3 separate regions of the Homo sapiens genome follow, and regions 2 and 3 are each linked to region 1. Evidence: fine-mapped expression QTL. A gene starts in region 1. Each other region holds a variant in brackets. All regions are shown on one strand. Distances are between the middles of the regions. Region 1 holds the start of THSD4 (thrombospondin type 1 domain containing 4). Region 2 overlaps THSD4 (thrombospondin type 1 domain containing 4). Region 3 holds the start of LOC105370884 (a long non-coding RNA gene).

Evidence for each region. PIP is the estimated chance that this variant, and not a neighbour inherited with it, causes the effect. A credible set is the group of variants that fine-mapping cannot tell apart.
Region 2: its variant is the best candidate, but not a certain one, in a credible set for the expression of THSD4 in gastroesophageal junction (GTEx, PIP 0.52).
Region 3: its variant is the best candidate, but not a certain one, in a credible set for the expression of THSD4 in testis (GTEx, PIP 0.54).

Annotation. Positions count from the first base shown.
Region 1 is chr15:71,110,710-71,120,907 of GRCh38, forward strand. It overlaps THSD4 (thrombospondin type 1 domain containing 4), which reads left to right and starts at 4,762. Exons shown (of 18, transcript NM_024817.3): 1 at 4,762-4,989. It overlaps CT62 (cancer/testis associated 62), which reads right to left and starts at 4,795. Exons shown (of 4, transcript NR_168260.1): 1 at 4,215-4,795; 2 at 2,922-3,054; 3 at 1,439-1,585; 4 at 1-717. RefSeq lists silencers at 4,576-4,625, 4,662-4,839, 4,686-4,745, 4,776-4,915, 5,066-5,155 and an enhancer at 9,372-9,888.
Region 2 is chr15:71,310,869-71,321,066 of GRCh38, forward strand. All of the region lies in intron 6 of THSD4 (thrombospondin type 1 domain containing 4), which reads left to right. Among named protein-coding and RNA genes, the nearest start is that of THSD4-AS1, 130 kb to the left of the region's middle. The variant G/C (reference allele first, on the strand shown) is at 6,099.
Region 3 is chr15:71,256,617-71,266,814 of GRCh38, forward strand. THSD4 (thrombospondin type 1 domain containing 4) reads left to right here. Exons shown (of 18, transcript NM_024817.3): 6 at 1-99. LOC105370884 (a long non-coding RNA gene) reads right to left here and starts at 6,394. Exons shown (of 3, transcript XR_001751791.2): 1 at 6,237-6,394; 2 at 1,390-1,445; 3 at 621-706. The variant T/C (reference allele first, on the strand shown) is at 4,632.

The sequences.
Region 1 (10,198 bases):
CCTGGAGAGTCCCCTGCCTTCCTCAGGGTCTTTGCAAAGGTGTTTCCTTCTGTCTAGAACAGTCTCCCACGCTGTCCCCTTTGACTTTGGGTGACTTTTCTCATCCTTCCTTTAGTCGTTCATAGTTGGCTTCAATAAATGAAGGATAGACGGGAAAGTGACTGATCAGCCATGCTTGAGAAGAGGAGGCCCTGGGCGTATGCCGTAGATCTCCATTGTCTAGGCCTAGTTAATCATCGCCGGAAGAAGAAAGGGAGGCTGTGGACTGGAGGCTGCCAGCCCCGCCTTCTCCTTCTGTCTGCATGTCCTAAGGAGAAGCAGCCTCGGATCCGGGTGATGCCTCTTGGCTGTGAGTATTATCATTTGCAAAGAGGAAAAGGGGAAATAATCTGAATATCTGGGATTCCAAAAGTTGTCTTGTACCAGGTAACAAGAACCTTCCTATCTCCTCTGACCAGATGTGGGGTGAGAAAGAGGATGAGAGCAAGTGTGAAGCAGAAAAGGGAAAGAGAAGGAGATAACCTGAAGTGTGGCCTGAAGACTCCCTGACACTTCATGGGAATCCTTGACATTCCGTCTGGAAACCATTTTGCTCATGTCCTCAGAGCTGTGGCTGCAGAATTTTCTCTTGCCCAGTTGTGGGTTACAGGTCAAGTAGAGAGTCAGCCCCAGGCAAGGGCACAGGAACTCAGACTGTAGGTCAGCATTCCAGAGTTCCTGGAGGAGGAAGAAAAAGGACTGGGTTAAGGAGGCAAGCAGGGGAGGGAATCTACCCTGAGATTTTTAGAAACAGCTCAAAATAACAGCAAGTTGACCAACTCTCAAAGTGTTTTGTTTTGTTTACCATGCCTCCCTTATTTTCTTATTATTTGCTGGGCACAGGCTTGCCTTGACTTTACAGTCTGCATAAGTTTACAACCAGGAAAATGAAAGGAACAATTTTACAAGCATCGTGATGGATCCTGGTACCTCCTTCAGAGCTTGAAATTAGGGGTTTGAATGTAGGTCCATTTTCATCCCACTTCCAAATGCTAGCAACGTAGGGAATTATACGGGGGTTTCCTTTCCTGCTGGGACACAATTCTCTGAAGCACAGTTAGGATGAAAACACGAGGTTTGTAAGAGCTGAGAGCAGTGTTTTTCAAAGTGCAATTTTCAGAACTCTAGGCCCAAGAGATGTTTCGCTGGTAAAAGGATTCCACGTCAAATACATTTGGGACACTCTGCATCATCTCTCCCCTCTCAGGCAATCTCAGTGCTTATAAGTAAGAAAACTGTGTTCCCCATAAGTTTCCCCCCAAAGGGTCCAGCTGTCCTGCATTGCCTTCCTGTAATCTGTTCACACGTTGCTCTTATTCCAGTTCCACATGCCCTGAACTCCCAGAAGGTTGCTCTCAGCAGTGAGCCATTCATTCCTCAGAGATTTGGGAGCCCTCACCACGTGCAGACGCTGTGCTGCAGGCTGGGAACCACAGGAGAAATGGCTGAATGTTCTGTGGGTGTGGCTGTAGGCAGAGGGCTGATCAGTGAGGTGGGGTGGTGACAGTCTTCTATAGGATGTCGTATGCATCATTTATCAACTTAACTAGGACAAGAGAATGAAGGGGGGTACTATTAATAATTAATTAATAATTATAATAGGACAACAGGTGTAAGCTAGAGCTGTCTTACATAGACAGAACTGACACATGACAGAAGAGTTATGTTTCTTGTCTGTCCCTTTAGGAGCTGCCTCTAGGGCCAGTGGATAATAATTACAGGGCAAAAGGTTTCAAGTCAAAATTAAAAGGGAATTTCTAACAAAGAGCCTCTAAGAACAATGTGGCTATTTTATGAGGTAGTGAGTAGCTCACCACATCAGATATGCAAAGGGGTGACCCACCCTCCAAGATGCTGTGTATAGCTGACACTGACATGCCAGGCAGGCCCCCAGCCTAGGTAAGCACAGGCTAGCCTTTGACTGTGATCTGAAGCACATATTCTTGGCTCTCTCTTTCGGTGAGGGTCAGTAAGCTATTTTATATGCAAGGACCACATTCTGCTCTTCTGATTCATACGTGACAGACACATTTGGATAAAAGCAGAAATATAACAGGACTGAAAGATTAAAACTTGCTGTCTTAGCATACTTAATATTCACTGATGCTTACACATAATGTAAATATCTCTTTGTTTAAAATGAGTATAGGCTGGTCTCTGTGGCTCACGCCTGTAATCTCAGCACTTTGGGAGGCCAAGAACGGAGGATCACTTGAGCTCAGGAGTTTGAGACCAGCCTGGGCAACACAGCAATACCTCCTTTCTACTAAAAATAAAAAATGAAAAAAAAATTAGTCAAATGTGGTGGCGCACGCCTGTAGTCTCAGCTACCTGGGAGGCCGCAGTGAGAGGATTGCTTGAGCCCAGGAGGTGGAGCCTGCAGTGAGCTGCAATCATGCCACTGCACCCCAGCCTGGGTGACAGAGCAAGACACTCTCTCAAAATAAATAAACAAATAAAACAAGTATTATCTTGACTTTAAAGAAAGAGACTTTCTTGTGACATATAAGCAAAATATGGTCAAAACAATTTGACCAAGGTTGAAAATGGACTGGAATCACTTCTAAGGAGCCAGCCTAGGTCTGTCGAATCAAGTTTGCTCACTAATAATCATACTTTGGTTATGTCGGATGTTAACATTAGAGGAAGAGGGTGGGGGATATAAGGGGATTCTTTGTACTATTTGTGAAACTTGTCTAAAATTATTTCAAAATTAAAAAATAACAAACAAAACCACATCCTTTGCTCCTGAGCCCTGTTCGCCCCAGACATTATGTGATGAACTCACTCCGTTCTTTAAGATCCAGCTCTGCAGAGCATCTCAGATTCCCTGTCCTGAGGCAGGTACTCCTGTATGAGCTCTTAAATACTTCTGCATTTACCTACCACCTACTGGTATGGTTTTCTGACTATATTTCATCTTCTTCGCCTCACGTGGAGTTTCTTTTAGAATGGAAAGTTTTCTTCCTTTCCTCTTTGAATCCTAGCACCAAGGCCACACTCGGCACTGAATACCTGTCTCGAATGAATGAATAAATCAATCTTGTTTGAACAAATCTTATTAGTTTTGCTTTTTTAAAATTATGGTAAAATGTACATAACATAAAAATTTCCATTTTAACCATTTTTAAGTGTATAATTCAGTGACATTAAGTACATTCTAAAGTTGCGCAGGTTTTTTTTTTTAAATCAGTTCTAAATGGTTTAAACTGGCCAGTATTTACTAGAGCTGTTAGATCGACTTAATTTGGACCCATGAGACTCGTGACACTCAGAATTAATCTAATCCCATTTACACCAGGTGCCTCCCATCAAAATCTGTTTGATCAAGTGTGGAATTATTTCATCCCATTGGAACCAGCTCTTGAATCAATCAGAACTGGCTCTGCCAGGCTCCGGGCCAGTAGTCGGTGCTCAAAATGGTGTTTCTTTCTTTGGCCTAATCTCTTGAGTAGCCTCTTTCCCTTTTGTTAATTTTTTTTTTTTTCTGGAGGACAATCTTCCCTGGGAGCTCCCTTCTGCTCCCACGAAGCGCTCTGCACCCAGCCCTGGTGCTGCCTGGCTCTGGGGCAGGGAGCTTGCATTCTGCCACCTCCTTCATTGTCCTCTCGGTATACCTGCACTTTCAAAACAACCCCTGCAGGCAAGCTTTAGAGGCAGCGATAAACAAACAGGCTGACTGAAATTTAGGGAAACGCCTGTATCTGGACAGCCTCTTCAAATATTTGTCACCCCCTCCCTGCTCTGGGGAAAGAAGAGACAGTTCCTCACAGTCACTCTATTTCCTGCCTTCCCAGCTCTGAACACCTTGGCTCGAATGTAAAGAATTTGGCTCTGAATTAGGACTCAAGAAACGGGGCCCTAGCAATTTTCCCTCCATTAACTAAACGCGTCACTTTGGTCATGCCCTTTTGGGGGCAATAATTTCCCAATTCGTAAAATGAAGGGATCAAAGTTTGATTTTTATCATTACTAATGAGAAGAATTATTATTTTTTTGCAGCAGGCTTTTTTTTCCCCAACAAAATATTACTCTGAATAAGACAAGAAAGAATCCCGAACGGCTCTGGCCGTCAGGGTGTGTGTGTCTCCTCCCCATGCTGTCTAACCCCCGTTGGAATTTGGAGGGCTCTTGTCCTTTCCCCTTGGCCTCAGAAGGAGCCCAGCGCGTCCTACCTTGCGTGGGAGTGTGTGTGTGACCAGGGCTCCTTCCTGCCCTTAGAGTCACCGCCCCCTTCTCGCACAGGTTTACAGCACCACTTGCCTCGCCCACTCCCCGCTTTGCCTCCGCCCCATCCTGATGCTGCCGGAATGGCTGTTCCAAATGGAAGGATGCCCGCGTCCGTCCCCTGCCCCAGTCCTTCAACAGGTCCCCACAGACCTCAGGATAAGATGAACGCGGAATTCAGGGCCTGGTCTCAACCGCCCTCTCCCTTTTCCTCTCACTTAGACGACCCTGGCCAGCTGGGCCACTCTCCACTCTCGCCCCCTCCCGCCCTCGTGGCCTCTGTCTAGACCGTACTCCCTCCTACTGGGTGATGTCTCTTCCCCTGGGACCCAGGGACCATCCCGTTGTTGACCTCCGGGGTCAGGGGTGCGGATGGGGGCCGGCCCTTCCCGCGGTCGCCGCCAGGGGGCGGCAGGAGCGGCTCCAGATGACAGCGGGAGGCCGCAAGAGGGGAGGGAGGAAGGACCGAGGGAGCGCGGATCCCGCTCTCGGATCGCAAACTCTGAGCCAGAGCTCTCCGCGCGCGCCTGAACCGCTGGCCGCCCGCGCAGCCCGACGCGGAATCGGGGCACAGCGGGAGCCCGTGCAGGGCGGGCGCGGGGCGGCTGGGCGGCGGTGGCGGCCGTCCATGCGGCGGCGCTCGGGGCTGCCCGGCGCCGGGAACCACGCGGGGGCGAGGCGAGGCGAGGCGGCCGCCGGTCGCTCCGGGACGCGGACCGCCAGGTGAGCAGAGCCGCGCGCCCCGCGTCCCCTGCGCGCCGCCCGCGCGGCCCCGACCCGGCTTCCGCTGCCCAGGCTCCGGCTCCCGCTCTCTGGCCGGCGGGGCGGGCTGGCGCGGGCTACCCAGTGGGTGTGTCCGGGGCGCCGCGGGCTGCGCCGCTCCGGGCTCGGGGAGCCAGCGCGCGCCTGGTCCGTGCGGACGGCTGCGCCTCCTTCTCTGGTTCTCTTCCTTGCTGGGAGTCTTGCTCTGTGCTGGCGCCGGCGCTCATCCCTCCACCCTCGACTCTAGGGACAGTCTTAAACTCTAGGGACAATCCACCTCAGTCGTCCCCGGGTCGGGGCCCCGTGCTCCCCGGGTCGGGTCGGAGGGGACCGGCGAGTGCACACCCAGCCCGTGCGCCCCCCACCTCAGCCTCGCCTCCCTCCCGCCTGGGGCCCGAGAGCCGGGCAAGTCTCGGTCAGCGCTCCTTGAGTCCTGGCCTGGGGCCTCGGATCTGTGTGTCTGTCTGTCTCAGTTTAGTTGCTGCAACCCAGCGAGCGCCTGGAGCCCGAGTGGATGGGTTGTTTCCGCCAACTCTGGACACTTCCTCAAGTGCAGCCTAAGTACCTGCGGCCCCTTGGCGCACTTACAGAAGTAGCTTTTGCACAGCGAGCTCACCTTGGAGCTCTACAGATCTGGAAGTTAAGTTTTCTTTTTATTTGAAATAACATCAGCCCTCACTTGGGAAGGGGATTTTAGGGCGTTCTCGGGCCCACCTAAGTATCTGGAATTTGTGGTCTAGTAAGTTTTTTAAGCAGTCCGCACCCAGCACCGTACCTCCCAGCCTCCTTTGCCGTCTTACTAAAAGTGCATGCTTGCTTCTCTTCCTGTCTCCTTTGCGATCTCTACCACGCTGCGCTTCGCCCTTTTCGGGCTATGAGTCTAAAGCTTGGACGTGGGTAGCAATCATTGGATGCCTGTTGGAATTTGGAATTAGAGAAATAGATACCCGAGAGAGATCTAAGGAATCGCCTTGTCCAACCCTCCTTTCACAGTTGGAGGCACCCAGGACCCCTGACAGTCTGAAGATTTTTCAAGGATCACACAGCTTTTAAAATCCGCGTGTCTTCTACTTGATTAATATTGTTGGAGGTGATGGAGTAACTGGGCTTACTAGGGTCTTACTGGGTCTCAATATACAAAGAAGCAAACATTTTAAAAATGTGACTTAAAATACGGAACTCTTCAATTCCTATAGATTTTTGTTGGCATCATAGTTGAATTCCTTTAGAAAACAAAATCCTAGCCCTGAAATTAATGTGAGGAAGCAAGCAGATGGGCGTCCTGGGACTTTCCTATAAATCTCTGCAGGGCTGGAGCAGGGATTTCCCAGAGGTCTGGGCCTGGGAAATGAGTTTGGGTGATCAGGATACTGGAGCCCCTTCTGAATAAGCAACTGGGTTGGTTTCTTGTGGGGAGGCTGGCCAGTGGAACTCATGTGATCTCCTCTGTGCCCAGCACTGGGCGGGGCACCAGCTTGGCATTACCTTCTTTTTAGTCTCCTATGCCATAAAGAAATATTTCTTACTGGCTGTTAGCGAAAGAAAAATACAGCCCAGAGTTTGGGAGGAAGATCAGGGGTGGGGAGATTTTTGACTTGGAGTTTGTTTTTGTTTTTGCCTCGAAAAACTTGTGGAGATTGCAATCAGTTATCCTACACAGAGGCTGTGTATTGCCGTCTTCTCCATCCCCCACATTTCTCTCCATGGTACCACTTTTATCCTAATTGCTGGGAGTCTCAATGTTTAAATGTTCCCAACACTCCCATTCTGTCCCCCACATTTATAGCTCATTCATCGCAAAATCTCTTCCACATTCTTTTGTGATATCTGAGGAATTATTTACCTGTCTCCATTCCCACTGCCCCCACCTTCAACCATGTCCAAATTACAGTAATAATCTCCCCTCTTGACTCCCAGCCACGAGTTGCTTTCTTCATTTTAATCCATCTTCTTTCATGCTGATAGATTAATATTTCTGAAATTCTGATTTCACCACATCATTTCTCTCAAGAAATCACAATGGCTCCCCAGTATTCACTTCTATTTAATTTATCTCCAACAGATATTTCTGAGCGTCTGCTATGTGCCAGGGACTGTTACTATGTGCCAGGGACTGTTACTATGTGCTGGAGCTTACGCTATGAACAAGACAATATCATTGCCTTCAGGGAGTCCACAGGCTAGCAGATGATAAATAACCACCCAGGGGAGAAAGGGAAGTAAAGAAATAACCGCAATACAAGGGGGATGTGCAAAACATCAAGGAGATGCGAATGAGGGAGAAATTGATTCTGCATGGGAGGAGCTAGGGCAGTTACCACTGGGCTTTGAAGCCTAAGGAGGAGTTCAAGGAGATGGGAAAGGCTGGTGGGGAGGGAGGACAGGCCAAGCAGAGGAAAGAGCTCGAGGAAAGACTGAAAGATAGGAAAGTACTGTATGGACACGGTTGAATCCAGGTTACTTTTCATCAGGGCATTTAAAATGTTTCCTAATCCCAGTCTACTTTATTGATCCAAGAGCCATCCCAACGCCTTCCTGCTTGAAGGCCATCCCTCCACTCACCCAGTCTCTATCATGGTCTTATCTGCCCTCCCCACACCTCCCATCCCCAGCTCAGAAATTCAGATTTCCCCTCTTCTGATCTAAATTTTGCCAGGCAGTGTATCCCACCCAGCCTTTCTTGCACACACTCCTGTGTCTCTTCCCTGCATTCTTTGTGCCTGCTCTATGTTCAGCCTGGATGAGCCTCGCCTCCCCAGCCACTCTGAGGTTTCCCCCGAGCAGCCTCCTTGGGCCTCTCCAGGTCATGGAACACACTGTCCTCATGTTAGTGGCCCCAGCACACTTGAAAGCACATGACTATTTGCCTGGGTTTGACCCCTCATCTCACTTTTCTCTTCTCTCTCCTCTTCTTTCTGGTTTTCCCATCTTTTTCTTTGCGTGTGTATGCAGAATCGTGATGTTTACTTATGCGCAGATATAAAGGTTTCATGTGTATTTGTTGAATATCCTCGCTGTGAAAATGGATTAAAAATGTTATGCTGGAAGCCAACACATGATGCAGGCTGACGCAGGTGAGGAGAAGATTCAGGGGAAGCTCTGGCTTTAGGCTGCTTTGCTGCCTCTGGCCCCCTCTTGGGATCCCCCAATTTTACTCCTCCTCCGCAGGACCGCTGTGCTGAGGCTGGGACACCCCTTCATCATCTAGGCCTGTTTTGCTCTCTTTTCCTCCTCCTGTCAAAACTTACTTCTGTGCCCACAGCCTCGCTGGCTTGTTAGCCTCACTGGGGCCATGCTTAGTGAGCACTGGTGTGTGCAATGCTTGGGGCTTTCAGTGGTTTCTCTTTTAATCCTCCCAGCCACCTAGAAGGGAGACATCAGCATCTGCCTTGTACAGGAAGAAAGTTGAGGCTTACTTGCCTGAGGTCAGCAGCTCAGGTTTGGAGCTGAAATCTTAAACCCAGCTCTCTAAATCTGGTGTTCTTTCCACTATATCATTATTTCCTGAAACAGTTGTCTTAGGAACATCTGAATCAAAATTCAGATCTGGTGAAAGAAAACACAGGCTCCAGGGTGGAAGCAGGGCTCGAGAACTGGCGTTTTTAAGATTACCTCAGGCGATTCTTCCGCACACCCAGGTTTGGGGACCACTGCCCTGGGCTTCCTTTACAATGTGGTTCTAGCGACAGGTGGTGGGTTAATACGCCACTTTATCCCAGGCAGCATGTTCCTTTTTGACAGAGGCCCTGACTTTGACTCTAAGGAGTGAGCAATGGAGAGTTGTGGCCAAGGCCAGGAAGAGGGTCCTCTCTTTTGGCCCGAGGGGTCTTTAGTTCAGTCCTGAAGGCCCAGCCCCCTCAGCTTACTCGAAGGCATGTAAACCCACCTGCCACCAGACTCACTGTGAATTTCTTTTGGGACCTGAGCGAGTGCTCAGGGAGAAAGACCAGGGTGGGTTTGTTCAAGAGCCCCAAGTTGCTTGGTTTGGGACCCCCCGAATAGGGCTGGACAGGCAAAGCCAGCCCCTTCCTCCCTGCAGGCACGGTGAGTTGAACCTCCTTTCCCAGAATGGGATCTGGCCGTTGACAGATCTCTTTCATTCAACTGGCCTTGCTCCACTTCCTACCCACCCAGCCTCAGTTTCCCCATGTGTAACAAGAGGATGGCCAAAGTCTGGAGGGCTGGTGGGGGACCAGTGCATGGGTATGCAGAGCTTAAGGCAAAGCCCTAAGGCACATAGCAGGCGCTCAGTGTTAGTTCTCGCCCCATTTCTTTACTCTGTGCCTGATCAGTGCTTGAGACAATTGGAGCTCAATGTATTGCTGTAACAAAAATGTATATGTAATCTCAGGCCCCCTCAAATCCAGGGTTTTGTGTCTGAAGGGCACAGGGCTGAATGTTACAACTGTGTATTCAAACCCAGCAAATGAACACTCCCAGCTGCGCGGTGATAGTAATAATGAATTACCCATCCAACATCCCTGCTCGCCCCACTCCCCTTCCCCAGCTTCCCTTTAGATTGCCCAAAGAAGAACCCATGGAACAAGAGGCAGCAGTTTTGTGTATTGATGCGTTGTCTTGGGAAAGTGGTCTCTTTCTGTTGACCTCTTTTCCTGTCTACCCCGTCACCCAGCTGAGTGTACTGCCTATGTTGTCTTCTCCTACCAGCCTTTCCGAAGCTGATCACTGAGGTGTCATCCCAGGCATTGGCGCCCATTAGCCCTGCTTCTCTAGGGCGTGGTCCGAGGGCAGTGAGCCAGGTTCACAGTGCCGCTGTGTCTTGTCCCAGGAGGGTGGCACTGGGCACCCCACAACCGGGTGGGCAGCATGTGGCCTGCTCCACCCTCCTGGCCCTTGGCCAGCTGCCTAAGGCCTGGCCAGCAGTGAGGACAAAAGCACGGAGTGATTAATGGGCACCCCATCTAATCTCCTGCCAGGGGAAATGAAGGGCCAGCCATGGGCTGGGAGCTCGTCATGACCTGCTCCAGGTGGGCTTGGAATGCACCCAGCTCAGGATGGGGATTAAGGCTTGAAAGACAAGAGGAAATGAGATGTTAACCCTTTAGGCCTTGGCCCTCTGAGCCCCAGTAGGGAAATCACAGGGGAATTATCTGCAGGCATCTGATGAAAGGGGGCATCAGCTTTGATTTATGGTGGGGATGCAGCCATG
Region 2 (10,198 bases), 200 kb after region 1:
GTCAAAGAAAACCTTTTACTTCTGAGGCCTTCGTTTTGGGGTGTTGTTTACTGAGCCCCAACATCTCCCCCACAACGTGCCAGTTATTCCCTAGCCTGTTGTATCCGCTCAGATTTAGTTCAGTGTTAAGTAGCAGAGACCCAAAATAAAGTGACTTAAACATGACAGAAGTGGATTAAAAGTGGCTGTGCTCCACACAGTCCTCAGGGCCTGGAGCCTTCCAATTTCTTAACTTCTATCCCTTGGGTTTGGTCCTAATTTTAACATTCCAAGAGGCCGTCAAAGTTCTAACCATCGTATTTCAATTTCAAGAGGCAGGATAGAGAATAAAAAGGGAGGACAATGAGCAAAGGACATAGACCTGCTGTTTGTTAACATAGATTTCCAGGGAGTTGTCATAGGCCACCTCTACTTATATTGCATTGGCCAGAAGTGCACCCCAGTGGCAACACCTAGCTTCAAGGAAGGCCTAGAAATGTCATCTTAGAAGGGGATAGCCATGAGCTCAGCTAAAAAGTCTATTGTTTTGGAAGATAATGGGTTTTGGAAGACATCCGACATTCTCTGGCATGGGTGCACCATTTGAACAGCTTTTAGAATCCAGCCTCTTCCAAGGCATTTTTTGAACTAATTAGAAGAGTGCTGTGCTCCCTGCCCCTCTTTGTCTGATCCCGGGGTTTCATGGTGCAGTTGCTGCTTCACTTTCTAACTGTGCACTGATCCTTGCCTTCTGCTTCCACATGTCCTCTTTCTAGACTTACAGATGACAAACCTAGCATTATATGTTGATATCATGTTTCCCTTTTATCCTTGTGTATCATATAATAAAATCTGTTTTCACCTGGGTAAATGGCACCACCATCTACCCATTGCTCAAGCCAAATGCTTGGGAGTCATCCTGAAGAGCGGCCTTTCTCTCGTCACTCCTCTTCAGTCTGTTAGCAGGTCCTGTCTTCTTTTCTTCCCATGACCTATATCTGTCCTCCTCTTTCCACCTCCATGCTGTCACCCTAGTGCGTACCCCATTGTCTCCAGCTGGGCAGCTGCAGCCACCCTCATACCTGGCCTCTGGCTTTCCCTCCTGCCAACCCCTCCCCATAGCCCGTGCTCCACACAGCACTGAAGGCAGTTATCTTTTGTGACACTGTCCTACTGCAGACCCTCCGTGGCCTTCCTGTTGTGCTTTGGAAAAATCCAGAGTTCTCTTTGTTTCCCTGCCCTCTGTTCTGGACTGTATAGTGCTCCCCTCAAATTCATGTTGAGTCCTAGCTTCCAGTACCTCAGATTGTAACTGTATTTGGAGATAAGACCTTTAAAGAGGTAATTGAGGCCGTCTGTAATCCCAGCTACTAGGGAGGCTGAGGCAGGAGAATCGCTGGAAACCGGGAGGCAGAGGTTGCAGTAAGCTGAGATCGTACCACTGCACTCCAGTCTGGGTGACAGAGCAAGACTCTGTCTCGAGGCAGGGGGTGGAGTGGGGAGTGGGGGGAGGGTAATTGAGTTAAAATGAGGCTGCCAGGGTGGGTCTTAACCTAATCTGACTATTGTGCTTTTAAGAAGAGGAGATTAGGACATACAGAGACACCAGGGCTGCATATGCACATCTGTGAGCTGAGGAGAGAGGCCTCGGAGGAAACGAGTCCTGCAGGCACCTTGATCTTGGACTTCCAGCCTCCAGAACTGAGAAAATAAATTTCTATTATTTAAGCCACCCACTCTGTGATATTTCATTACGGCAGCCCTAGAAAACTCCTCTAACCTGCCAAGCCACACATGATCATATAACCTGCCAAGCCACACATGATCAGTTACCTCTGGCCTCATACCTTCCTCTGCCTTTTCTCACTCCACTCTAGCACGACTCGGGCTCCCACTCCCCACTTCCCCACCACCCCACAGGACCTTTGCACTTGCTCTTTGTGCTTCTGGGAATGTTCTGACCCCCAGATCTTCCTATGGCTTCCTCCTCATTATTCAGGCCTCTCTTCTGATTGTCCCTCCCTGCAAGAGACCTTCACTGTCATACCTCACCACTCAAGTATCTGAAACTTTTGGAGTTGGTTTACTTATTGCCCTAGAATGAAAGCTCTGCGAGAGCAGGGACTTCCTCTGTCTTGTTCACTGCCACGTCTTCACTCGCTAGAACAGTGCCTGGCATATAACGGCACTTAATGAGTGTTCATTGGAATGAATGAGTAGATGTATGATAAAATTAAGGTTTTTTTCCTATGTGTTTATTTATATCAGTATCATTTATTTATTGATATCAGTATGGACCCATGGATATTTATTTTATACTTTGGGCTACAGTTCACTTCTACTTTATTTATTTATTGCTCAAGTTATTCAAGCCTTAGTCACTGAATTTAGTTGGCCCCTGGTATCCCTTTGGCACAACCCCGTCATTCTGTGTGTGTACATGCATGTGCTCACATATGTGTGTGTGTGCATGTGTTCAGTATTTCCTTACTCTCTGGCACTACAAGATGCTCCAGGTTCATGTTGGACATTCCCTGCCCCAGTTATCAAATCAGCCATTTCTTCAAGGAGCTCTGGTACTTTTGTATTTTATTTTTTGATATTTTTATTTTGGGGGAATAACACACACTGGAGCTTGCTGAGGGAGGGTCGGGGGAGAGCATTAGGACACACAGCTAATGCATGCTGGGCTTAATACCTAGGTGATGGGTTGATAGGTGCAGCAAACCACCATGGCACACGTTTACCTATGTAAAATTAGTTTCAATATATAGACAATTTCAAAATCTTAAAAATAATGCTTTGAGGGAAGGAGAGACTCTTTTCGTAAAAGTGTTTCTTAGGAGAAGCATGTCATTTTTTACTTTTTGATTTTTTCATACTTACCCCTCCCCAGAAGCAGCGGACCTCCTAGCTGTGTCTCGCGGTCTCCCTCCATCTCCGCAGGTTTGTACCGACTGGGGGCTCTCCGTAGCTTTCATGCCATTGCTGGTATCATTACTGGCATCAATTGTTCCTGTTAGAATGAGGGCTTAGGTAGTTAGAAAAAAACACAGCATGGGCTCCTACTAACAAAAGCAGATTAAAGCCATCTTTTCAGTTAATTAGTTCCAATGCTCTGATACGGATGATGAGGCATAGGAAGGCTTTTATTGGAGGAATTCTTCTGTCCAGAGGGGCTTTGAAAGCAAATGTGCTGAAAGTCCTGCGGCTTTTCTCAGTGGTTTGAGAATGTTTATCCTAAGAAGTGTTTCTCAGTGAGTTGGAAAAGATCATTTTAGCCATATGATTATAGCCTTTTTTAAAGGTTTAATAGTTACAGTTTACTGAGAAAGAGGTTGAATTATATCTTGATTTTTTTTTCTCTTTTGTTTGATTTAGGCTGAAGGAACTTATCTCAAAACTTAGCCTGGTAATATTAATTTTGATAAGTTACTATAAGAAAATATTATATTTTTATTCTTTTTTTTAATTATTGGCGGCGGAGTCTCACTCTGTCACCCAGGCTGGAGTGTAGTGGCTGGTCTCAGCTCACTGCAACCTCTGACTCCTGGGTCCAAGCGATTCTCCTGCCTCAGCCTCCCAGGTAGCTGGGATTACAGGTGCACACTACCACGCGCAGCTAATTATTGTATATTTAGTGGAGATGGGGTTTCACCATGTTGGCCAGGCTGGTCTTGAACTCCTGACCTCTGATGGTCCATCTGTCTCGGCCTCCCAAAGGGCTGGGATTACAGGCATGAGCCACCCACTGTGCCTGGCCATTTTTATTCTTTTAAAAGAGAAAAGTACTTGTGCTTTCAGCCTCAGAGAAACCATGCCTACAACATAATCTTATTATTTGTATCACAAAGTTGTGATCCAAGTATTGCCACACCTTGGTTCAGTGTGCTGTAGTGCAGGTTAGATATTTTGGATGCTAAATACACCTCTTGTAGCAGGTTTTAAATTTCTGCAACAGACTCAAAGAGAACCATTACTTTAAAAATATTTCTATTTTAAACAAATGTAACTTAGTATGTCTTATTTTCAAAGACAGTAGAATATAAACTTACACTGTCAAGTATTCTTATACTTTCACTCTCTTATCTAGTTTAAAACAGTTTTCTGGGGATAATTTTTCTAAAGATTCAGGCTCATAGTTAATTCAAGCTCCAGGGCTATTTTCCACCTGGGGTTCTCTGCCTCCTGCCCCCACTCCCCCAGGATGACCTCTGCAATCAGGAATATGTTGATGGCAGTGGTAACAGGGAGGACTATTAGAACACTCTCTGCCCTCTGGGTCCTTGTTGGCATCCTAGAGGTGCCCTTTGTCCTCCCAGCATGGCCTGGGCTGCCTGCCTTCATCTCTCCTCATCTCTGGCTGATATACCTGCATTCACCTGTGCTCTGGGCTGGCTCTAACTGTGCAACTGGTGACCATCCCTGCCTTGGCTTTCAGCCAGTCTGTATCCTTCTTGCCCAAAACCTGGACTTTTAATTGTCCACAGACCCCCTTCACACTTTTATTATGACACTGAGCCTTGCATGAACTGGTTCACCTCTCTCTAGGCTGTGGGAAACCAGGGAGATATTTCAAAGCCTGCATGACACTCCGTCTTCTCTACTCCACCATGGCCACCTCTTGTTAATGTAGGGCACACAGCGGGTGGTCTTCTCCCAGAATTCCAAATGGGAAGGAAAGCACCCAGGATAGGAGGTCAGCTGTGTCCTCTGTGGTCAGTCCTCCAGGCTCCGCCTCCTTGAAACCAACAAATATATTTTTATTTTCTTTTGAACAAAGCCTGATTACTGTTACTGAGGTGGCGGCGGGGAGGCTTTGTTTGCAGATAAATCTCTAGACCAGGGATTTAGAAAACACTATTTTAAACTTCAAGGATTAGGAATGACTCCCTTGTTCAAAGTTGTATCTGTCCTTGCTGTGAAGGAGGATGTAGATGCTTCAGTTTCAGGAGGTGGAGAGATTTGGGGAAATAGGAGCACAAGGAATAAAAATATATCAGATTGTATTTCACCAACACAAAAAAAATTGTCCTTCTATATTCTTAGTAGTAGAATCTACTGATTAATAACAAATGACTATATATATAGCCTCATCCTCAAAAGTGAATGTAGGATGACTTTCAAATTAGAAGTCAAGGTGAATGAGAGGTAAAATAGAAATTACAGAGGAAATCTTAGTAAGACTTTTGGGTTCACTGGGTATGAGCAGAGTAAGGAGTTGGGGATAACTTCAAAGTTATCCCTGTTAGCCTGTATGGAAATCTGCTTGCAAAACAGGCTCTTGGCTATGACTGAAGTTACACACCACTTGATTCAGCTGAAACAGTCATTTATGTCTGTTGCCATTCCTGTCCTCTCTTCTGGTCTTCATTCTCACATCTCCAACTTCTGCTAAACAGCCCCTCCTTTATATAACTCAGCTTGACTTCAAATTAAGTACATCTAAACCTAAACCCATCTTTTCAAAACAGGTAGACATTGACAAACCTTAACCCCCCTGCTCCAACCAAGGGGTTACATTAAGACGATACTGGTGGGACATCTTCAGTCACCTATTTTACAATCTTGAAGTTATCCACAAGGCATGATGGTGACTGGCCCACTTTTGTGGAATTGGTAGGCCAAGCACAAGTCTACCTTTGTTTAGGGTGAGTGATACAAAATTGTCACTCTACAGAGTTCTAGGTGTCATTTGGCTCCTTAAATATACTACACACCAACCTAGGCCTTAGGCCCATTGCTGCTAGGGAGGGGTACCCATCATGCTTTCAGGCCTGGCTTAGTGGCTGAAGGCCTAGATACAACTGAACCTGGGGCAAGCTTCCTCAGTTCCAGCAGCTGACCAGAGTGGGGCTCCCTGGACCTGGGAAAGGCTGGGCCCCCAACAAGCAGCAGGGTCTGGCTGGAAGATTTATGTTCCAAGCATCTCAGTGGAGTTCTGAGAACACAAATGTAATGGATCTTAGGGCCGAAATCTGAGGACTGAGCCCATGTTGGGAAAATACCAAAGTATTATACTTTGTAGTTATCAGTGGGACCTAATAAACCATTGTCAATGCTGACATTTATATTTTCATGTGACACAAAATGAGCCATGGGAACTGCCTTTCAAGGTT[G/C]CTTAGAAAGTGGTTGGCAGAGCCTGAAGTTTTAAAAAGATTGGGTGGGATATAAATGTTTAGACAAATTAGATTGCCTAAGTGTTTGCTTTGTATAATAATAGTCTGAATAAACTGCTAAGGGAGAATTTTCAGAGCTGGATATTGGTGTTTAAAATAGTCAACATACAAGTGACTAAGCCTCCACTCCCTTAACCTCTGAAACATATTTGTGATGGAGAGCATTAGAAGTGAGGAGTAGCCATAAAAGGAAAAAGGTTGTCGTCTTCTGTGAACCCATTTCTGTGTACACAGGGTAGAATGTTTTTGAAGATGGTGTATTAGTCCATTCTCACCCTGCTAATAAAGACATACCCAAGGCTGGTAATTTGTAAAGAAAAAGAGGTTTAATGGATTCACTGTTCCACATGGCTATGGAGGCTTCACAGTAATGGCAGAAGGTGATGGAGGAGCAGAGGCATGTCTTACATGGTGGCAGGCAAGAGAGCATGTGCAGGGGAACTCCCCTTTTATAAAACCATCAAATCTCATGAGACTTATTCACTATCATGAGAACAGCAGGGGAAAAACACACCCCCATGATTCAGGTAACTTTCACTAGGTCCCTCCCATGATATATGGAAGTTATTACAATTGAAGGTAAGATTTGGGTGGGGACAGAGAGCCAAACCATATCAGATGGCAAAATGTACCCTTTGGGAAGTTCGTTTTTTCACATGATTCCAAGGAAGAGGCTGCCTGTGTAGGGGGACAGTGGGATAGTTGAGGACTGGGAATGGTCTGGCTTCAAATCCTGGATCTATCACTTAGTATTGACATTTGACAAATTACTCAGCCTCTTCCAGGTTTATTTTCCACATCTGTAAACATGGAGAAATTCATAATACCTACCTTCATAGAATTCTCATGGCATTAAATGAGATACACTACCTAACGCAGTTGATTAGCAAATGCCTGGTATTTGGTCGGGGCTGAGTAAGTATCAGTGTCCCTTGAGATCCTCACTGCTGTTTTATTAGGTGAGGAGGTGGTGGAGCTTAGAATTTATATGCCCAGGAGGATGGTGCTTCTTGCCCAACACCCACCTACCAGTGGCTTTTGGGGGGCAGTAGGGAAGGGAGGAAGGATTCAGGGAGCATGGAGTTACTTGTTCCTAATCTGCTTGGTCCGCCTTTGAGGGAAGTTTATGAAGAACAGTCCCACTTCCTTCCCAGGAGGCATGCCATGAGCCAGAGATAAGGCAGTGAATTTGGGAAGACAGAGATTCAAGACAACTGAGCCTCCAAAGTCACCACAGACTAGGAGAGAGGCAGCATGGATGGCCCCCAGAATGAAGGCCGAGGATGTCAGGGGTGGAGACAGACAGAGAGCCAGGGAATGGCACTAGGCATAGGATGGAGCATGGTTTGAAGTGGAGTTAGTTTGGTGTTTTCTACACCTGGGACATTTGTTCCTTTACCACACTGAGAGATGGAATCTTAGTGGGAAGGAACCACTATTTGTCTTTTACTCATTAAGTTCCTAGCCCAGCATAAAGGCTCCTGGAATAAGTATCCTAATGGGAAAAGCTAAAGCCTCTTGGAGGCACTCAGGGTTTGGCCACAGTCATTGATGGTTCAAGAGTTGTTAAGGTGATTCAGACCAACACAAACCAGGGGCCTGTAGCTGAGGCTGGGACTCAGCCCATCAGCAATCAGAAGGGCCAGAACCACACTGGATCATTTCATTCTGGGTTGGAAATGACTGGAATAAAGATCCTAGGGGAAGCAGGAGCAATGAATCTAAGACTTAGAACAGAAGGAGCACAGACACCCAGGTTACCTGAAGAAGAGTCAGATGATGCCAAGTGTGAACCTGAGAGGCAGGAGGGCTGGGGAGGCAGAGTACAGCAGTGGAGAGAACACTGAGCTGAGAGCGGGAGCCCTGGCCCTGGGTGCAGTACGATTCTCCTAGCTTGGGGTTTAGCTTTGGATAATTTGTTTTATTTCTCAGAGTTTCAGTTTCCTCAGTTTCAAAATGAGGATGATCATGCCTTAGGTCATAATGTTGATTAATGGCAGAACTTGATTTAGAACCAGATCTCCTGGAAGTAACAATTACTTGTGCTGGACATTGGTGCTTGCAAAATACTTCTCTTAAGTGATCACATTTGATGACATTTGTTTCAGGCCTGTTTCAAGCACACCATAATCAGGACTGAGCACCTTAGGACACTCCTGGTATGTCTAATCAGGGAAATGGGGAACACCACAATGTTGACATCAAGGATTCTAAAGTCTATTATTATTATTATACTTTAAGTTCTAGGGTACATGTGCACAACGTGCAGGTTTGTTACATATGTATACATGTGCCATGTTGGTGTGCTGTACCCATTAACTCGTCATTTACATTAGGTATTTCTCCTAATGCTATCCCTCCCCCCTCCCCCTTCCCCCCACCCCACAACAGGTCCCAGTGAGTGATGTTCCCTGCCCTGTGTCGAAGTGTTCTCACTGTTCAATTCCCACCTGTCAGTGAGAACATGCGGTGTTCAGTTTTCTGTCCTTGTGATAGTTTGCTCAGAATGATGGTTTCCAGCTTCATCCATGTTGCTACAAAGGACATGAATTCATCCTTTTTTATGGCTGCATAGTATTCCATGGTGTATATGTGCCACATTTTCTTAATCCAGTCTATCATTGATGGACATTTGGGTTAGTTCCAAGTCTTTGCTATTGTGAATAGTGCTGCAATAAACATACGTGTGCATGTGTCTTTATAGCATGTGTTTTTCTTTGTTCTGATTCTGAATTGCCCTGTTGGTGGTGCTGCCCTGTTAAAAGTCAGTTAGGATGGCCCTGAATGTGAGTTTTGCTAGGCTATTAATGACCGTTTATTTGGCCAACAAGTGTTACAAACACGTGATTAAGCAAAGGTAAGCAAATTCTTTATTACAGGAGTTCTCAGAGCTCTTACTGTACTGACATGAATTATAAATCTTTAAAAGGACGGTATGGTAACTAGACTCCAGCAAAAGGGTCATAGAACCATTTTTAAATTGGTGGTTGTTGTTAGATCTCTTGGCACTAACATTCTTGAAAATATGCTTGGGGAAATGCTAACTCAGAAATTAACGTTTGCTGAACCCAGAGTCCACTGGGTTACCCCTAGGTGAACTTCTAGTTCCCGAAGTTGGCCTTTGGATGAGTCATCTTCCCCCATCAGGTTCAACTATGTGAGGATCATTCTGCAGTCACTCATGATAACCATTTCTCAGTTTAATGGTACAATTCCATATTGCCTTACATTTTATATAAGTTGTAAGCTCATAAAACATCTTTGTATATTTGGAATGTACTAAAGACTGCAAGTTAACCCAGACTAAAACAACCTCAAAGTTATTTGCAATCTTCTGAACATCTCCATATTACAGCAACTGCCCTTCTCACGAGCAGGTCCATTTTCCTTTTTTGATGAGGATACTAGCTTCTGGCAAGCTGAACTCTCCTTTGGATCACAAACTTTCCTTCTCCTAAAGGTCCCAGATGTTACTAAGATTTAAAATAGGTCAGCTCACATTTTTGGCCTTTTCATACAACATAGCCCACGTTAGATTGGTAAAGAGACAGATAACACATAGAAAAAAAGATCCAAGTAGCCCAAGAAAGCCTGTTCCTGGAACGTGATCAAACTTTTTGCTCCATCCATACCTTTCCTCACAAAAGCTTTTTCAAAAATGTGGGACTCGCACTGCTTGTCCCTTGATTTTAGTGGAACCAAGAAACCGCATCAAATAACACTGAATCCTAGAATGAGAAAGTCATTCCTTTTTCAGTTCTCTTTCAACTCCAGACATCTTTTTTTTTCAACATCAAGGAAGATGTTATGCTAGTTATGTCTTTAACAGTTCTCAAATTGAGCTAGTCTTCAATTGTGTCTAGCTAGGATTTAATAACATGGTTTCATTTTCTTTTGTATTTATTTTACTATAACTTTTTATCCATGGAAAGTGATGTAGCTTTTCCATATTCCATGGCAAGATAAGATTCGTTTTGAAAATAAACGTTAAAACATTTAAACAGAGTATATTGTGAAGATTAGAACTGCTGTCATAACAG
Region 3 (10,198 bases), 150 kb after region 1:
GTCCAGAAAGCAGTAGAAGTATCCGGGAGGTACAGTGTGCATCCTACAACAACAAGCCATTCATGGGCCGGTTTTATGAGTGGGAACCATTTGCAGAAGGTAAGAATAGACCCAGCCCTGTCCATAGAAGTTACTTTAGTCTGTTTTCCATTCTTGTTGACTTCTGATTGATGTTGGAGGTATTGGTGTGATCCTGGCTGGGGTGTCAATAGGGGAGAAAGTGTGACTCCAGGGCAAAGAGAAGCCTGCATGGGTCTTTACCAAAGGTAGCATAGCTCAGGTGACGCCTGGACCATCTTCGGCATGAGTCAGATGGATGAGGCACTGATGGAAACAAGCAACATCCAAGGATGGCAGGGTGAGGGGGACAGAACAGGGTTCAAGGAATCAGTTGGAGAAGAGGTTCAAACATAAAGTTGTGAGCCGTGAGTGCAGATGGAGTTTCCCTTTCCTTGGTTCCTGCTACAAGGGGTAGTATGGGAGCTTAAGAGAACATGTGGGGTTGTACAGTTGTATGGTTCTCACCTGTAGGGGGCCTCACATGCTGATTCCAAAGATAATAGTAGGCAGGCATTGCCCGTGAGTACAAGATCCCCGTCATTTCCAGATGACAGAAGATCCAGAGTTGGTAGAGCAAGTTGATCCCACTCTGCATGCTGGAGTCACTTTTCTTTGTTGAAATCCAGATGATAACATGGCTTGCGGACTGAGAAGTTTTAACATTCTGAGATATTTCTACCCACCCCTGGAGAAAGTGGGCTCAGAAGAGGTGTTGGGTCAAGCAGAATTTGTGGGGGTTCTATGCTCACAGCCAAGTTGGCTGGAGAGGGAGTCCAGCTGCCTTCAGGGCCCAGTGGAAGAGCTCTGCCCAGCCAGCCCTTCTCAGCTTCAGCCCGAGGCAGTGGCTGGACAGCTAAGGTTGGCCAAGACCCAGAGTATGGAGCACTGCACAATGTGCAGGATCTGGAGAAATTGCCTTGGAAGAGGGATTGATAGTGAGTTGTGATGATTTTATTGCAGAATCAATGCCTGGGGAAGCCAAACTGTGCAAGGTGGTTCTATACTTAGAGGCCCTTGGGGAGGAGGGAAGTGGATTAGTATCTGACTGCTCTGAAATTGGATGCTAAATTGTTTTTATCTGTGCAGTGTTCTCAGAGACTCCATAGCTTCTATTAGATTCTCAGAGTGGTCCCATGACCTCAAAATTGTTAAGAACTAACTTGACTGAAAAATTGAGACTATCAAATTCAAGCAGGAAGGATGTACAGAGGAAACATAGAGCTAGCTGAGTGCACATACAACGGGTGGGGAACAGGGTGAAGGGTGAGCAAAAGAAGGATGCCAAAGTGAAATTTTGATTTGATTCTGTGGATAGAGCTTGGTTCTGACCTTTTTCATTTTTAAGGGCATTATGTTAAATTTAAGGTGGTATCCTGATTTGGATCCTGAAACAGAAAAAGGGCATTGTTGGAAAACCTAGTGAAATAGGCATAAATTGTATAGTTTAGTTAATAGTATTGTACCAGCGTTAATGTCTTAGTTTTTATAAATTGTTTGTTTTTTGTTTTTGTTTTGTTTTTGAGGTGGAGTCTTGCACTATTGCCCAGGCTGGAGTGCGGTGGCGTGATCTCAGCTCACTGCAACCTCTGCCTCCCAGGTTCAAGCGATTCTCCTGCCTTAGCCTCCCGAGTAGCTGGGATTACAGGTGTGCAACACTACGCCTGGCTAATTTTTGTATTTTTAGTAGAGGCAGGGTTTTGCCATGATGGCCAGGCTGACCTCGAACTCCTGATCTCAAGTGATCCACCCGCCTCAGCCTCCCAAAGTACTGGGATTACAGACGTGAGCCACCGCACCCAGCCTGTAAATGGTTTTGTAACATGTTAACATTATGCGAAGCTGGGTAAAGAAAGGGTATACAGGAACTTTTGTACTATCTTTGTAACTTTCCTGTAAATCTAAAATGATTTCAAAATAAAACGTCTTGAAGGCATTGTACTCCCAATTAGCTATGTCTTACATGGATTCTGGTGAAGACAAAGTGTAATACTCACTTAATATGGGTGAGGAAGAGTGCACTGGGTTAAATACTGCCCCCACCCACCACCCAAATTGGTATTCTTCCTGGAACCTTAGAATGTGACCTTATTTGGAAATAGAGTCATTGCAGATGTAATCAGTTATGTTGAGTTCATATTGGAGTAGAGTGGGCTCTTAATCTGGAATGACTTGTGTTCTGATAAGAGGAGAAAGTTGGGAGGCCAAGGCAGGTGGATCACCTGAGGTCGGGAGTTCAAGACCAGCCTGACCAACATGGAGAACCCCGTCTCTGCTAAAAAATAGAAAATCAGCCTGGCGTGGTGGTGCATGCCTGTAATCCCAGCTACTTGGGAGGCTGAGGCAGGAGAATCGCTTGAACCTGGGAAGCGGAGGTTGTGGTGAGCTGAGATCACGCCATTGCACTGCAGCCTGGACAACAAGAGTGCAACTCCGTCTCAAAAAAAAACAAAAAACAAAAAAAAAGAAGAGGAGAAAGGACACAGACATACAGGGAGTATGCCAAGTGATGATGAAGACAGAGATTGGAGTGATGCTTCTACAAGGTAACAACAAGGACTGCTGGCAGCCACCAAGAGCTAGGCAGAGACAAGGAAGCATCCTTGCCTAGAGCCTTCAAAGTGGGCGTGGTCCTGCCAACACCTTGATTTTGGACTGCCAGCCTCTAGAACTGTGAGAATAAATTTCTCTTGTTTGAAGTCATCAAGGTTATGGTATTTTGTCATGCAGCTCTAGGAAACTAATACAAAGAAGAAGGAACAAGGTTCTGGATTGATTGAGATCTACTCGCTAGAGTAGATCCAGAGGTGAGTTTGCTCCAGCTGATAGTAGCAGATGCCTTAGAGAAGTGAGGCATGTATCCAAAGTGAGCAACTGCCTCAACTGGCTCACAGATGTAGGTCTGTCCAGCACAGTGGTTCTCAGCCCTGGTTGCTCTTCAGAATCACTGAGGAGCCTCCTAGAGACACTGATGCCTAGACCCCTCCCCAGCGATTGTGATTTAATTGGTCTGGGATGCAGTCTGAACATCAGGATTTCTTAAAGATCCCAGGTGATTCTTATGGGTAGCTAGGGTAGAGAACCTCTCATCTAAGAGGGGATGACTCAGCCTACATTGAGGGACAGAATCATGGGTATTTGATAAATCCTGAAATACATTCTTGTGTCAGAACAACAATGCTTTCCAGTGAACATTTAGAGAAGAAGTGACCCTGTCTTTTGTCTGAGCTGCACCCTTGCTTTATGGCTGGCTGTGGATAATAGCTGCTTTATTGTGATTACCTGGGGGGAAAGATGAATTCCACACTACACTGAGCAGTGTGCGTTCTGTAATTTCCCCAGGAGCAGAAGCTGCCTTGCCAGACCTTTTCTGCGTGGTCTGAGGTGGCCATCAGCCAGCTGTTGTTGTCTAAGACCTTGAGGTCTGGTAGATGCAGGTCTAATATTGATAGCCCTATGCAAACCACAAAGAAAACTTTGCTAATGTTTTCATGTATTACATGTGAATGCCTGCTGTTGTCTGGCTTATGTATGGGTCTACTTTTTCTGTTATTTTTTTCCCCTCTGATTTGTGCTAGACTTTAAGACCTGGAAGAACTTATTTTTTGAACATTTGATTTAACTGATTTTTTGGAAAATTTCAAACATAGGTAAAAGTAGGGAGAATAGTATAATAGTGTGATAAGCTCCTATGTACCCACTTAATTCCATTAGTTATCAGCCCATGACCAATCTTTTTCACAAATATTTCCATCCTCTCTCTCCCACCCAGATTATGGGAAACTGCTTGAATTCACATTACAGAGCATTATTCATTGGTGGATATATTAATTGGAACTCTTGGTTGTAAGTGACAGAAACCCAAACTAAATACATTTTGATCAGAAAGGTATTTTGTTGGTCATGTTACTGGGAAATGCAAGAGGTGGCCTGGGATTCAAATGTGGCTGCATTCCAGGGAATCAGTAACATTAGGACCCTGCCTTTCTCATCTTTCTCCATCTCTAGGTTCTGTTTACTTCTGTCTCGGGCAGGCGAGAAGGCTTACCATGGGTTTGAGCTTGCAATCATACTGGGAGGGACTCTCTCACCTGGTCTTGAGGGCTGAATTGCACCCCCAAAAAGATTTATTAAAGGTACCCCTAGGCCAGGTGCGGTGGCTCACGCCTGTAATCCCAGCACTTTGGGAGGCTGAGGCAGGTTGATCACCTGAGGTCGGGAGTTCGAGACCAGCCTGACCAACGTGGTGAAACCCCATCTCTACTGAAAATAGAAAAAATTACCTGGGTTTGGTGGCACATGCCTGTAATCCCAGCTACGCAGGAGGCTGAGGCAGGAGAATCACTTGAACCCAGGAGGCAGAGGTTGCGGTGAGCCGAGATGGCACCATTGCACTCCAGCCTACCCCTGGTACCTGTGATGTAACCTTCTTTGGAAAGAGGGTCTTTGCAGATCTAATTAAGATATAAGTTTAGATGAGGTCACAGTAGAGTAGAATAGGCCCTAATCCATTGTGACTGGGGACCCACACAGAGAGCACCATGGGAAGACACAGACAGGGGGAAGACAGCCCA[T/C]GTGAAGGCAGAGGCAGAGACTAAAGTGATGCAGCTATGAGCCTAGGAACGCCAAGGATTGCCAGCAACTTCCAGAAACCAGGAAAATGCGTGGAAGGATCCTTCCTCCAGAGACTTTGGAGGGAGAGTGACCCTACCAACACATTGATTTTGGATTTCTGGCCTCCAGAACTGTGAGAGAATACATTTCTCTTGTTTGTGTTCAACAGGACGCCAACCAGTTTGTGTGATATATTACATCAGTCCTAGGAAACTAATATACCTAGTGACTGTTCCAATCCCAGACAAACTATACCATGGTCTTGTTTGGATCCTGTTCCCATCCCTGGAACCTAGTTTGGGGGATGGGGTACTTGGGTTAGCTCAGGTCATGTGACCAACCCTATGGTAGGGGACCCACATCGCATGAAGAGGAGATAGGGAAGTGGGGATTGAGACAGACAGGAAAACATTCTTCTACCAAAATCAGTGCATACTTCTTTACTGGAAGCCACTGAGATGTTGAATCAACTAATTAGCATCCTAATGTGGATTAATCAGCTATCCTTTACCATGTGTTACTAGAAAATAATGCAGTCTTTTAAAATGGTCACTGACATTGATATTTTTCACATGCCTAGAAGGAGAGAGGAAGCCTATGGTCACTGAAGTTGAGTTTACTTTGGCTTTGTTTAAATAATTCTTTTTGCTGCTAAGATTGTTTTCTTGATTTTATCCTTCCTCCTCTTAAATGGCTCCCAGGCTGACCGGCGGGAGGAAGACACTGCTAATGCTTCTGCAGGGCTTTACGGCTGGATTTTGCATCGGGCTCTTGGTTTTGTTTGGATGTCTACTGCTATTCACATGTGCCTACTTAGGGAAACAGCTGCGCTCATTCAGTGCAATGCCACATAGAATAGTAAAAGCGGAGTATACTCTCTGATAAACACATTAATTTTACCAGATGGTTCTTCTTAAGCCTTTAATTGCATTTCCTGGATTTGGTGACCTATCCTTAGATAATGCCTCCAGGAATTTTTCTCATAGCCTGGGACCTATTACTGTAAAGATGGCAAAAGTGGAATTAGGGTGCCCGTGCATCCCAGTTCACCCAGGACAGTGATAGTTTATGCCTGTCGTCCCAGTCCCCTTTCACTCTCTGTCTTGGACAATAAATATATATGTCCATTACACCGAGCATGGGCAGTTTCATAGGAAGCCACTTGTTTAGGTGCTGAGATTGGAGCAAATTCTACCTGTTTTCATGCCAAGGGTAATGGGGCTGCAGCATGAGACTGGAGTTTTGCTGGGTTGCTATAGGCTATAGGGCATCAGATATCAGTTTTAATCCTTAAAACTGCTAGGGGGCAGCTTTATGTTTGGGTAGCTTGAGTGCACTGTGTGTCCCTGAGAGCTGAACTAAAGAGTGGCAACTGAAAAGCCAGAGGGGAGGCTGAGTCAGAAAGTGAAGGTCGCCAACTGGTGACATGAACAGTGATTGTATCTGTCAGCAGTGGCTGGCTTATGTTACAGTAACAAATAACCCCCAGATCCAAATGACTTAACATGACAAAAGCTTGCCTGCTGTTCACCTTCCACGTGTAAGGGTGGGTGTATTTTGCTTACCTGGGGACCCAGGCTGGTAGAAGCTGTATCTCAACTCATGATTTCACTGAGGCAGGGAAAGGGAACAAGTGACCTAGGCTCAAATTCTTTGTTTTTGTTTTTTTTTTTCTAACTTTTATTTTAAGTTCAGCGGTACATGTGCAGGATGTACAGGTTTATTACATAGGCAAACGTGTCATGGGGGGTTGTTATACAGATTATTTCATCACCCAGTTATTCAGCTTAGTAATCCATTAGTTATTTTTCCTGACCTTCTCCCTCCTCCCAGTCTCTGCCCTCTGATAGGCTCCAGTGTGTGTTGTTCCCCTGTCTGTGTCCATGTGTTCTCTTCATTTAGCTCCCACTTATAAGTGAGAATATGCAGTATTTGGTTTTCTGTTCCTGAATTAGTTTGCTGGGGATAATGGCCTCCAGCTCCATCCGTGTCCCTGCAAAGGACATAATCTCATTCTTTTTTATGGCTGCATAGTATTCCATGGTATATATATATATATACGACATTTTCTTTATCAAGTTTATCATTGATGGGCATTTAGGTTGATTCCATGTCTTTACTATTGTGAATAGTGCCAATGAAAGAACATACATGCATATGTTCATAATGCATGCATGTGTCTTTATAATAGAATGATTTATATTCCTTTGGGTATGTACCCAGAAATGGGATTGCTGGGCTGAATGGTATTTCTGTCTCTAAGTCTTTGAGGAATTGCCACAGTGTCTTCCACAATGGGTGAACTAATTTACACTCCCACCAACAGTGTATAAGTGTTCCTTTTTCTCCACAACCTTGCCAGCATCTTGTTATTTTTGACTTAATGATAGCCAGCCATACAGACTCAGGTTCTTAAAGCTTCAATTAGAATTGATCCACATTGTTTCTGCTCACATCTCATTGGCCAAAGCAAGTCACAAATCACACCTAACTTCCAAGGGGGAAGGGAGGTACCCTCCCACTATGTGCTCAAAGGAGGAGAAATGGAATATCTGTGGCTGGCCCTAGTGACTAGCAGGCAGGAAGCTCCAGTGAAATTCCCTGAATGCCTTCCTCGTTAAGTCCAGGTGACTTTTATTAGGTTGTTTGCAAGAATAGTAGATGTTGCTCCAGGGAATATTAAAGGTGCCACCACACAGTCTGATATCCACAGAGCCCTGAGCCACTTCAGTCAAGATCTACCCCTTGCGTGCTTCTGACTCCTCCACCAATCCAGCAGTCTGCCCCAACACAGACGCCATGGTGGGGCATGATGGGGCAGGGGGCGCTGTCAGATAAAAACATAGACAATATTATCAGAACTGTAAGATATGAGGGAGGGAGGCTTGTGACTAAGTGCTGGTGGACCTGGAATTAGAGTGTTCGTGTTTTACTGAAGCGGCTTTATTCATAGGCACTCTCATTCCCGCAGCCCACCCCTGTGCATAGATAATCCATAATCCTGTGAATGTTCAGAGTGGAAGGGGCAGACCTTAGAGAAATGAGAGGCGGTTTCTATTTCACTGGGAGTGGATCTGGAATGCTCCCCACAAGATCCATTCTCAGAGCTCTCTTTTACATGCCAGGGGATACCTGGCAAGACTAGGCCATGTTTGCTTTGGGGATGAGCATATCATTGAGGACAAAGCCCAGAGGGCAACCTCTTTGTGAAAACAAAATGATGATTTTGGTTTTGTATATGTTGAGTCTGAATGAATGGTGGGACCCAACAGGAGGTTAGGGATGCAAGGTTCTGAAGTTTAGGGAGATATCTTAGGGTTGTAGACCCATACTTGCAGTCATCAACCTTGGTGAGATTAGTGGATAAGACCTTCAAGAAAATGTAGAATAACAAAATGGATTTTACAAGGACCAGGAAATGAGCTTTGGAGTATGTTACATTAAGGAAGCAGGGGAAAGAGTCTCAGCCATTAAAGGACACTGAGAAGGTGATCCAGGTATAGGAGAGGCACCAAGGCATTATCATCCCATGTATCATTTCTTATGTTAATAAAGCTTATTGTGGTTTATAAAGTTCTGCTAATACACACAGCACAATGAATGCTATGGACTAAATGTTTATGTCTGTCTAAAATTCATAAGTTAGAGCCCTAACCCCCAGCGTATTTGAAGATGGGGACTCTAAGGAACTAATTAAGATTAAATGAGGTCTTAAGGGCAGGGCCCTGATCTGATAGGATTAGTGTTCTTATAAGAGGAACACTAATATTACCTGGGGACCCAGGCCGATAGAAGCTGTATCTCAACTCATGCTTTCACTGAGGCAGGGAAAGGACACCAGTGTTCCTAGTGGAACACTAACAGTGGTGGCTGGCAAGATGGTCAAGTAGAAACGGCTCCGGTCTGCAGCTCCCAGCAAGATCAATGCAGAAGGCAGGTGATTTCTGCATTTCCAACTGAGGTACCCAGCTTATCACACTGGGACTGGTTAGACAGTAGGTACAGCCCACGGAGGCTGAGCTGAAGCAGGGTGGGGCTCTGCATCACCCAGGAAGCACAAGGGGTTGGGGAACTCCCTCCCCGAGTCAAGGGAAGCCGTGAGAGACTGTGCCTTGAGGAATGGTGCACTCTAGCCCAGATACTACGCTTTTGCCGTGGTCTTTGCAACCTGCAGACTAGGAGATTCCCTCGGGTGCCTACACCACCAGGGCCCTGGGTTTCAAGCACAAAACTGGGTGGTCATTTGGGCAGACACCAAGCTAGCTGCAGGAGTTTTTTTTTCGTACCCCAGTGGCGCCTGGAATGCCAGTGAGACAAAACTGTTCACTCCCCTGGAAAGGGGGCTGAAGCCAGGGAGCCAAGTGGTCTAGCTCAGCAGGTCCCACCCCCACGGAGCCCAGGAAGCTAAGATCCACTGGCTTGAAATTCTCGCTGCGCGCACAGCAGTCTGAAGTCGACCTTAGACGCTTGAGCTTTGTGGGGGGGGAGGGGCATCTGCCATTACTGAGGCTTGAGTAGTTAGTTTTCCCCTCACAATGTAAACAAAGCCGCCAGGAAGTTCAAACTCGGCAGAGCCCACCGCAGCTCGGGAAAGTCACTGTAACCAGACTGCCTCTCTAGATTCCTCCTCACTGGGCAGGGCATCTCTGAAGGAAAGGTAACAGCCCCATTCAGGGGCTTACAGACAAAATCCCCATCTCCCTGGGACAGACCGCCTGGGGGAAGGGGCGGATGTGAGCGCAGCTTCAGCAGACTTAAACATTCCTGCCTGCTGGCTCTGAAGAGAGCAGCGGATCTCCCATCACAGCGCTCAAGCTCTGGTAAGGGACAGACTGCCTCCTCAAGTGGGTCCCTGACCCCTGTGCCTTCTGACTGGGAGACACCTCTCAGCAGGGGTTGACAGACACCTCATACAGGAGAGCGCCGGCTGGCATCTAGTGGGGGTCCCTCTGGGACAAAGCTTCCAGAGGAAGGAACAGGAAGCAATCTTTGCTGTTCTTCAGCCTCTGCTGGTGATACCTAGGCAAACAGGATCTGGAGTGGACCTCCAACAAACTCCAGCAGACCTGCAGCAGAGGGGCCTGACTGTTAGAAGGAAAACCAACAAACAGAAAGGAATAGCATCAACATCAACAAAAAGGACGTCCACGCAAAAACCACATATGAAGGTCACCAACATCAAAGAACAAAGGTAGATAAACCCACAAAGATGAGGAAAAATCAGTGCAAAAAGGCTGAAAATTCCAAAAACCAGAGGCCTCTTTTCCTCCAAAGGATCACAGCTCCTTGCCAGCAAGGGAACAAAACTGAACAGAGAATGAGTTTGATGAATTGACAGAAGTAGGCTTCAGAAGGTGGGTAATAACAAACTCCTCCAAGCTAAAGGAGCATGTTCTAACCCAATGGAAGGAAGCCAAGAACCTTGAAAAAAGGTTAGAGGAATTGCTAACTAGAATAACCAGTTTAGAGAAGAATATAAGTGACCTGATGGAGCTGAAAACCACAGCACAAGAACTTCATGAAGCAT